2 separate regions of the Homo sapiens genome follow, and region 2 is linked to region 1. The links come from fine-mapping of genetic effects on gene expression. Tissue or cell type: activated CD8 T cells. Region 1 holds a variant in brackets; the other region holds the start of a gene. All regions are shown on one strand. Distances are from middle to middle.

Evidence for each region. PIP is the estimated chance that this variant, and not a neighbour inherited with it, causes the effect.
Region 2: MKI67 starts here. The variant in region 1 is fine-mapped to the expression of MKI67 in activated CD8 T cells (Schmiedel 2018, PIP 0.95).

What each region holds. Positions count from the first base shown.
Region 1 is chr10:128,090,682-128,096,059 of GRCh38, reverse strand. No RefSeq gene overlaps it. Among named protein-coding and RNA genes, the nearest start is that of AS-PTPRE, 31 kb to the right of the region's middle. RefSeq lists enhancers at 3,672-4,171, 4,172-4,673. The variant A/C (reference allele first, on the strand shown) is at 2,784.
Region 2 is chr10:128,124,129-128,129,506 of GRCh38, reverse strand. It overlaps MKI67 (marker of proliferation Ki-67), which reads left to right and starts at 3,084. Exons shown (of 15, transcript NM_002417.5): 1 at 3,084-3,408; 2 at 3,751-3,931. The coding sequence starts at 3,840. RefSeq lists an enhancer at 2,595-2,824 and a silencer at 2,935-3,304.

The sequences.
Region 1 (5,378 bases):
AGCTACTTAACTAAATGATTTCGTGTGGCTGAGATCCTACTGTTTGCTGGGTTTCCTGGAAAAGTCCTCTAGATGAACTGCAGGAATCTCCTGGCACTCTGGTTACAGCTGGAGAAACTGATTTCTGTGCTGTCCAGGTGCTCCCAGACCCCCAAGGCATCTCCAGGACACAGTCACCAAACCCCCATCCTGGTATTACTGGCATTGAGTGCCACGTAGGCACACAGCACTCCATAATTTGGAAATGTGGATTTCATTGCTATTGCTCTTCATGAGGGAACAAATAATACCCATGATGTATTGGCAGGAAGCCACGCCCCCCCTCCCCCGCTGCCACCCCCACAGCGCGCACAGTGATTTCAGGAAGGAGGTTTGATTGGTTTGTTGTGTGTTGCCCTGCAAGGGCCCCAATCAGCTTCCTGCTCATCAGCCCCATCTCAGGCAAGTCCCACATCTGTGATGTCAAGCCCTGAGCCGGGTAATTGGACTTGGATACCTGCTTGACTCATCTTTCCAGTGAGGTTCCTAAGGAGCATCCCCAACCCCACCTCCCAGGGGGAGCTCTCGATGTCACCTGAAGAACAAACAAACAAAAACTGTGTTGATGGTACAGTCCCAGGGCTCCGTGACTGGACAGGCTCCCTGCGTGATACACCTGTGTATGTCACTACAGAAATACAGCTGGTGCAGGCCTGTCCGCCTCTCTCACAGGTCAGAGTGTTCTAAAATCCATCCTGGCCCTTGTTGTCTGTCTGCTTGGGGTTAGGGCAGGTGCTCCTTTATCATTTGTAAAGTTTATGTGATGTCTGGTATGTGTTCCACACCCTTGCAGAGTGTAAATTCCTAGAGAGAGTTCAGACTTCGGAGTCAAATGCACAGGTGCAAATTCCAGCTTGTCTAATTTGCTGCTGTGTGAACGTGGACAGTCTTTCAACTTTGCTAGTTTCCCATCTGTAAAATGAGGCTGTTCAGTACCTGAGCACATAGCATTGTTGAGAAGATTAAATGAGACAATATGTGTAAAACACTTAGCATTTTACCCAGAGCTTGGTAAGCATCAATACATGCTAATTATCATCATCATCAGAAGATGAATATATTTATTAGATGCCTAAAACTCCAAGATATTTCCCTTGGCTCATAAATTCTTTATCACTAGGGATTTCTCTATGGAAGTGAAGGAAGAATCTGGAACGTAACAGGCCTGAATAACCAGGGGCAGTGGCTCACACCTGTAATCCCAGCACATTGGGAGGCCAAGGCTGGAGGATCGCTTGAGGCCAGGAGTTCAAGATCAGCCTGGGCAACATAGCGAGACCCCATCTCTACAAAAAAAAAAAAAAAAGAAAAAAGAAAAGAAAAAATTAGCGGGCATTGTGGCACATACCTGTAGTCCCAGCTACTTGGGAGGCTGATGTGGGAGGACTGCTTGAGCTCAGGAGTTCAAGGCTGCAGTGAGCTATGATTGTATCACTGCACTCCAGCTTGGTCAACAGAGCAAGACCCTGTCTCAAAAAAGAAAAATAAAAATCCTGAATAATATGTCTATGTCTTCATCGAGCCCACGTATTGAAAACTACCCAAACCACCAACAATGCAAAGAAACATTATTTAACTAAGAGTCGAGTAACCAAATTTCAGGGTTATCCAAACTGAATATGGCCTCTGCAGGAGAAAAGAATATGTGTGATGTGGCAGCCACAATCTGATACCATATTAACACTGTCTTTTATTTTTTTTTTTTTGAGACGGTCTCACTCTGTTGCACAGGTTGGAGTGTAGTGGCACAATCTTGGCTCACTGCAACCTCTGCCTTCAAGGTTCAAGAGATTCTCCTGCCTCAGCCTCTGAGGAGCTGGGATTACAGGCATGCACCACACATACCTGGCTAATATTTGTAATTTTTTTTTTAGGAGAGACAGGGTTTCACCATGTTGGCCAGGCTGGTCTCAAACTCCAGACCTCAGGTGATCCAGCCACCTTGGCCTCCCAAAGTGTTGAGATTACAGGCGTGAGCCACCATGCCCAGTCAACAGTGTCTTTAAATGACATCAGATCGCAGAACTTTGCTGAGCTTGGCCCAGACACAGGTCTGGCTAAAACAGGTGGTGCTGGGACCAGGCATGGCCAGGACATAGGGAAGCACATCCCTGCATAGAAAAGGTTCTGTGGATTTTAATCCAGGTCAGCAATTAGCAAACTTTTTCTGTCAAGGACCAGGCAGTAAATATGGCGGCTTCGTGGGCCATACTGTCTGTTATGCTGACTCACCTCTGCTGTTAAAGAACAGAAGCGGCTGTAGGCAACACGCAAGCAAACAGGCATGTCCAAAAAATGGCTAATAAAAACAGGCTGTGGGGCTGGGCACGGTGGCTCACGCCTGTAATCCCAGCACTTTGGGAGGCTGAGGCGGGTGGATCACTTGAGGCCAGGAGTTCGAGACCAGCCTGGTCAACATGGCGAAACCCAGTTTCTACTAAAAATACAAAAATTAGCCAGGTGTGGTGGTGGGCCCCTGAAATCCCAGCTACTCAGAAGACTGAGGCAGGAGAATTGCTTGAACCAGGGAGGCGGAGGGTGCAGTCAGCTGAGATCCAGCCCACTGTACTCCAGCCTGGGTGACAGAGTGAGATTCCATCTTAAGCAAAACAAAACAAAACAAAACAAGCAAGAAAACAACAACAACAACAAAAACCAGGCTGTGGGCCCATTTTGACTGAGGACCTTGGTTTGCATATCCCTGATCTAGAGAAATGAGTGATTTAACATATATGCCTCCTAGG[A/C]CATATCACATTGAAATTAGCAGCCCTTGCAATATAACGGGTCATGAGCAGAGGGTGCATTTCACTTTGGGCTTTGGGGTCTTCCCGGGCCCTGGAACCCCCACCGGCTCCCAGCCCCAGGACGTTGGAAGCTGAGAGGCCTGGCTTCCAATCCCAGCCCTGTCCCTTGCTCGCTGCATGACTTGGGCCCATTGCTTGGCCTTTCTGAGCCTCAGTTTCCCTAGCTGGGAGAGTGAAGATGGCAATTTCTTGCCTCGTAGGGTTGTGAGGACAAAAGAAGAAAACTCGGGTGGATTGTGTAGCCTGGCCCCCATTCTCAGAAGGTCTCCAAGCGGTGCCGTCTTCCTCTTATCCCAGCGTGGCCTCAGCCTTCGAGAGGCCTAGAACTCTGGGAAAGGAGCAGTCAGGACTGGACACGACTCCAGGCTTTTCTTATTTCTTGTGTGGGGTCTGGAAAAGGAGAAGTGCAATTATATCCAAGGCCCCTCTTGGGCAGGGGTCTCAGATCCAGGCCAGGCTGATATGAGCAAGGGGAGGCGGGTCAGGCCAGGCAGCACTGTCAATTTTGATGTTGGGAGGGAGGAGGGGCATGACTGTGTATCAGCAAATTCCTAAATTTCCACCCTGGCTCGGGAGATGCAGCTTGTGCTGAAGTGAGTCACTTATTCCTGGGCCCCTCATCTGCCTGCTTGCTTCCATGTCCCCTAGAGCCAAAAACAACTATAGGAGCAACTTAGGGGAAAAGTTACCTATATTTATATATAAGCGTATGTATTTATATATAAATATGATAACTATAGATATAATCTAATATATTGTGTATAATATAAATTAAATATATTTAATGTAATGTATATAACTTAAGTATATTATATATTCATAACTATATAAAATATATAAATATACTAAATATTATTCACTAGGTTTTCATCATTGGCAACCTAAGTTCTATATAAATATATAAATATTATCTATGAAAATTTATACACAAATATGTATATAAAATGTTATAAATATATACATACATATTTAAGTAAAAATAATATATACATAAAATATATTATATGTTTATATAGATTTAGGTTGGCAATGATAAAAACTTAATGAAGAATTTTTAGTGTAATAAAAACTAGTCTCGTGGTAGCTCTTTGTGTTTCAGAATCCAGCTATTTGGCTCTGGGCCCGCCCTCTGTTACTCCGAGAAAGCACTGCTTTGGAGGTAACACAACGCTAGGTGGCCCCTGAGGCTCCCTGAGCACCGTCCGATACCCCTCTCAGAAGCACCTCTGCCCCCTCCTCTGTACAGCCCGCTTTGCTCGCCTGCCTCTTCCTTTGGATTCCAGGTTGGTCGGGGAAGCAATGGGCCATGTGTGTGCACCGTCTGTGCCTGCCTTCACCCACACGAGCCTGTTGGAAGACGACAGCCATATGGAAGACCGCTGAGCTACCCCGGCCCCCCAGCCCAGGCTAGTTGGGGTTACCCAACTACCAGCCAATCCCCAGACGTGAATGTGAATAAGCCCAGCCAGCATCACAGAGCTGCCTCGTCAATGTCTAGCTGACCCCAGATGCCACCTAAACAATTTGGGTTTCTCACGGCAGTTCTCTTCCCAACCTCTGTTCCCCTGGGTTCCTAAGAACTAAGGGTTGTGCCCACCAATCAAAGCAAGAGGGAAACGGGCCTTGGATTTTAAGGCGTTGCACTGCTGTGACTTGAAAAGGGATATGGTTTAAAATCATTCATTTAGGCCGGGCATGGTGGCTCACGCCTGTAATCCCAGCACTTTGGGAGGCCGAGGCAGGTGGATCATGAGGTCAAGAGATCGAGACCATCCTGGCCAACATGGTGAAACCCTGTCTCTACTAAAAATACGAAAATTAGCTGGGTGTGGTGGCTGGTGCCTGTAGTCCCGGCTACTCAGGAGGCTGAGGCAGGAGAATCGCTTGAACCCGGGAGGCGGAGGTTGCAGTGAGCCGAGATCGTGCCATTGCACTCCAGCCTGGCGACTGAGCGAGACTCCATCTCAATAAATAAATAAACAAACAAATAAGTAAATGATTAAAAATCAGTCACTTAAAGACATATTCTAAGATGAGACCCTCTTGCTCTATAAAACTGAAGGTCGTGTCCACTAAGAAGAGTGGATCTGACCTCAGCCCTGCACTGTGACGCCACATTCCATTAGGGCAGAGGAACAGCATCTGGCAAGAGAGGTCGTCCCAGAATTCTAAAGAGGCAGGATGGCCCTAGTATTCAAACTTGGACCACACAGATCTGCACGTCTCTCATCCCAGAAAGGAGAACCCAAAGTATGTGTCTCGGTTCATGATTCTGAGGATGAGGGAATTATGGAAGGCACCAAGTCCATTCATAAAACACACCACCCCCTCCCTGTCCCGGTTAATGACAGTGGGTGGTGGCTTGAGCATCAAAGTGGCCCATGATGTCTTGGTTTTGCTATCTGGTTATGCCATCTGGCTTTCTTGGTCTTCGTCCATTCATTTCCCTGGAGTCCTGGCCATGCTTTGCTTCTTACTAACCTTATGCAGAAGCCAAGGCAAGCGAGGACGAGGCATACTTGGAGTATTCCCACT
Region 2 (5,378 bases), 33 kb before region 1:
TATATAGTATATATACTCTATATATAATTGTTATATATAGTATATATACTATATATAATTACTATATATACAGTATACTATATATATACACACATACTATATACTATATATAGAGACAGTATACTATATATATACACACATATATATACATATATACATATATATAGCGACAGTATACTATATATATACACACACACACACACACACATACATATATATACACACACACATAATATATATATATATATAAACTGTGCGTGGTGGCTCACACCTGTAGTCCTAGCTACTCAGGGGGCCGAGGCAGGAGAATTGCTTGAACTCAGGAGCCAGAGGTTGCAGTGAGCCAAGACTGTGCCACTGCACTCCAGCCTGGGTGACAGAGTGAGACTCAGTCTCAAAAAAAAAAAAGTGAAACCCCATCTCCACTAAAAATACAAAAAAAAAAAATAGCTGGGCTTAGCAGCAGACACCTGTAATCCCAGCTACTTGGGAGGCTGAGGCAGGAGAATCGCTTGAACCTGGGAGGCGGAGGTTGCAGTAAGCAGAGATTGCACCACTGCACTCCAGCCCGGGGGACAGAGTGAGACTTCATCTCAAAAAAGAAAAACAACAACAGCAACAACAGAAAAGAAGTAACTCAAAATGTTTCAAAGAAGTAACTCAAAATGTTTTTCTTTCTTTCTTCCTTTTTCTTCTCTCTTTCTTTCTTTTTCTCCTCTCTTTTTCTTCTCTCTCTCTTTCTTTCTTTCTTTTTCTTTCTTTCTTTCCTTCGTTCTTTCTTTCTGTCTCTCTCTCTTTTCTATTTTTTTTTTTTGATGGAGTCTCGCTCTGTTGCCCAGGCTGAAGCGCAGTGGCGTGACCTTGGCTTACTGCAACCACTGCCTCCCGGGTTCAAGTGATTCTCCTGCCTCAGCCTTCCGAGTAGCTGGGACTACAGGCGTGTGCCACTACACCCGACTAATTTTTGTATTTTTAGTAGAGATGGGGTTTCACCATATTGGTCAGTCTGGTCTTGAATTCCTGACCTCATGATCCACCCACCTTGGCCTCCCAAAGTGCTGGGATTACAAGCATGAGCCCCTGCGCCTGGCCTAGCACCTTCTAGTTCTAATTAGGCTGCATCCATGAGGGTGGAAGAACTGTCTCTGGAAACAAGCAGTAATTAGGATGAGAAAAGTTGTGTTTTATGGGGTTATGCAGTGGTGGGCTTTGTTTGATCGTTTAATGGGGGAAAACATGGAAACTCATGCCCCCTAAAACGTTTATATAATAGTATCCCCGCACTGAATTTTTCTACGTCAGACTTGGCCCATACAATTTAGAGTTGCTGTCCTGTGCTTTTATGTTGCTTTCCCAGTTTCTCTATTTCCATCAGCAGCTGATATCTTTGTAGTTGCTCTAGAGCAGAGGGCTCAGTCTTTTCAATCTTGTGGTCCCTTTACACTCTTAAGAATTATTGAGAACCACCAGGAATTTTTGTTAATGTGGATGGGTTATATCTAGCTATATTTATATATTTTAAGTTAAGGCTAAGGAATTTAAAAATATTCATTTATTGATTCATTTTAAGATAGTGATGCACCTATTTCATGCTAACACCAATAACTTATTTTTATGGAAAAAAAACAACAAAATGAAAACAGCGCTTTAGTTCACATTTTTGCAAATCTCTGTAATACCTGGTTGAAACGGAGACAGTGGGAGTCTCCTCACTGCTTCTGCATTTGCAGAACCACACCCCACACTCTTGGGAGCATGAGAATGAGAAGGGCAAGTAACACAGAGGGTCATTAGATAAATGGTTTTGACCTTATGGACTCTCTGAAAGGAATAGGAAGTCCTCAGGGGTCCCCTGCATCGAGGCCTCCCTGATCAAGGGAGCCAAGCTCCAAGGGTTGCTGGGGAGCTGGAGGAGGTGAGATGGGGCAGAGAGGCCGTTGTCACCAAAAGCGTGTTTAGGCTCCATTCACTTCACCCCAGGTGGCCTACTGAGCCCACATGGCCACCAGCGCAACTGAAGCAGACCCCGATAGAATCCTGTGTAGAATTATTTTAGGATTCACCCATCTTGGCATGCACAAGCCATTTCAATTGAAGAATGTTTTCTAATAACAAAACATTGTAAACCTAAGTATGTGGCAATAGTAATGATTAAGTAAATTATGGTTTCCCGAAGCCCAGTGCTCTGCAGCCATCAGAGAGTAAAAGCGAGAATGTGTTCAGTGGAGATAGCCTCAGGATATTTAAAAGCAGAGAGCACAAAGTATAGAATCGTGTTGTGTATGTTATGACCTTTTTTTCTGTGCTTTTGAAAAAGAGAATACACGTATAGCAGGAAAAGACACACCAAACTACTTTATATAATTGGTTGTTTTTGTGTTTGGTAAGATGTATGCACTGAAGAGGAAGGTTTCGATTTTTTTTTTTTTTTTTTTTTTTTTTTTGAGACAGGGCTTTGCTCTGTCGCCCAGGCTGGAGTGCAGTGGCGCGATCTCAGCTCACTGCAGCCTCGACCGCCCCGGCTCAAGCGATCCTCCCACCTCAGCTGTCCCAGTAGCTAGAACTACAGGGGCGCCACCACGCCTGGCGAATTTTTTGTAGAGATGGGTTCTCTCCAGGTGGCCCAGGCTGGTTCTGAACTCCCGGGCTCAAGGGATCTTCCTGCTTCAGCTTCCCAAAGTGCGGGGATTACCGGCGTGAGCCACCGCGTCCCGCCTGTTTTTAATTTTTAGCAGTTTTAAATCTTCTGGCAATGAGTAATGTTATAGTGTCCCAGATGTTTGGTCCTTTAAGAAAAGGATAGCAGGACGGGTTATCTCGGTGGGAGCGTGTTCCACCTCTGCCCTCCGCCAGCCGCCCTCGCCGGGGATGCACCCAGGTATTTTCCTCCGGATGCGTGAGTGGCTCGCCCGCGGACACGCCAGCCCCGCCCCGCGAGCCCGGTTTCCCCGCCCCCTCCCCGCCCACGCCCTGCGCTCCCTTCCTATTGGTCCCATGCCGCGCTTTCCCGTTCAATCGCAGCGCTTAGCGCCAGAATTTGAATCTTCGTTTTCGTTTGAATTGGGCGGGCGCGCCGGGCTGGAAGAAGGAAGTGGAGGGCTGACGCTGCGGGCGGGCGGGCGGGCGGGAGGACTCGACTCGGTGGGAGCCGCTAGAGCCGGGCGCCCGGGGACGTAGCCTGTAGGGCCACCGGGTCCCCGTCAGAGGCGGCGGCGGGAGCAGCGGGGACTGCAGGCCGGGGTGCAGCGAACGCGACCCCGCGGGCTGCGGCCCGGTGTGTGCGGAGCGTGGCGGGCGCAGCTTACCGGGCGGAGGTGAGCGCGGCGCCGGCTCCTCCTGCGGCGGACTTTGGGTGCGACTTGACGAGCGGTGGTTCGACAAGTGGCCTTGCGGGCCGGATCGTCCCAGGTGAGCTGCGGCCGGGACTCCTGGGAGCTGTCCGGGGTCGAGGGCTGAGCCGCGGGGACCCCCCGAGCTCTGCGGGGACGGGCAGGGGACAGACGCGCGGCCTGGGCCCGACTCCTCCTGGGCTCTGGCGAGGGCGTCTCGGTGGAAGCTCCCAGGAGGCGCAGGCGCTGGCGACAACACCCCAGCTGCCGGACTTTGGGGCGCCGGGGGCTGCGGTCGGATCGTCCTGGGGTCCCCGCTAGCTAGCTGCGGTGTGCGCTTCTGTGGCCGGGGATAGGTGAATTGGGCACGGGGCCCTTCTTAGCTCCTTTGCTATCAGAGTAACTCGCACCTCTTTTGCAGTGGAAGAGTTGTAAATTTGCTTCTGGCCTTCCCCTACGGATTATACCTGGCCTTCCCCTACGGATTATACTCAACTTACTGTTTAGAAAATGTGGCCCACGAGACGCCTGGTTACTATCAAAAGGAGCGGGGTCGACGGTCCCCACTTTCCCCTGAGCCTCAGCACCTGCTTGTTTGGAAGGTGAGCCCCGCGGGCGCGCGCGGACGTTTTAGCTGAGAAAGAGGAAAATACCTTAGTCACAGAATAAAGTCCAGAAACGCGCTCTAGGATTGGGTCCTGCCGTCACTTTTCCTTGGTGCTTCTCCCATTCGTTACTAAGTTGACATAGTTGTGTTTTTTTGTTTTGTAAGTATAAATTTGATGCTAGTTTGTATGTTTAAGTGGTTTTAAAAATCAAGCCAATTAAAAAAATCGATTTGCTAATGTTGCGGTAAAGAAAGATGTAGATGATCTTCATATGTCACTGGCTGCAGGCAGGCGTCTGAAGACACTGTGCGCCCCCGGGTGCCTCCACAGTGGGCATCCCTGGCCACTGGGGACACAGAGAATGAAGGAAGGAAGCCATACACTTGTCTCTTGGCTCCTTGTGGCAATAGGAAAATGGGACAGAAAGTCTTCCTGCCTGGAATTCGAGAACGTTTCCTCTTATATTGCTGTCCTGTTTGGTGGTGGTAATAACCCTGTCCCTGTATAACAGGTATAGTTGCTGACAGTGCCCCATCAGCCTCTGACATGTGTCCCACTAGAGGCCTGAGAAGGGGGGTCATTTCCCGTGTGGTCATTTCCCAGACCACACGGGATTCAGGCCTCACCCTGTCCTCCCAACCCCATCCCGGCCTCACCCTGTCCTCCCAACCCCATCCCCTACCTTGTTCCTCCCGCCTAAGGCATTCCAAGCCTTTGTTCACCTTGGTACTTCTTACACACTTGGAAGTTTACAATGGGAAAGTTCTCCCCTTCCTCAAGCTTGTGTGATTTCCATCATTCAGGCATCAGGTGAAATGTCACCTCTGAGGAAGCCTTGCATGAAAACTTGTATTTCCAACCCCACAGCTTCAGGGGTGAGTTGTGGGTTTGTCTCCCACTAGGCTGAGCTCCCCAAAGGCAAAGACTGTCTTGTTACTAATCACGTGTGTAGGGCCAGGGATGGTGTCTGGCATAGGGGGTGTGATCAATACCTAGCATTCTGGCAAGGGTCAGTAGAAACATGGGCTGGAGCCATGGATTTGCAATCTCTTGAGAACAGTGGTTCTCACAGGAGGGTCATCTAACCTTCCAGGATTCATTTGAATTTCCATGTCACAATATAGGACAGGGGCATGCGCTGTCATCGCGGAGGAGAGGTCAGGGTGGGCATCCTACCAGGCTCAGGGCAGCCCCCACAATACAGAAGCATCTGGCCCAAGATGTCAACAGTGCCAAAGCTCAGAAACACCCATCTATAGTCGTCCTCCTGCCAAACAAATTCTCAGTTGTAAGGGATAGTCTTTCCTTTGCTCTGATGTCCTGTTACCTTAAAATCAAATTATTTTATTGGGGTTAAGGAAGCTTTTCACTTTCCATAGATACCTTTCTCTTGAAAAGGAAAAATATAAACATTTCATCTCCAGTGGCAGTCCTTTTGCTT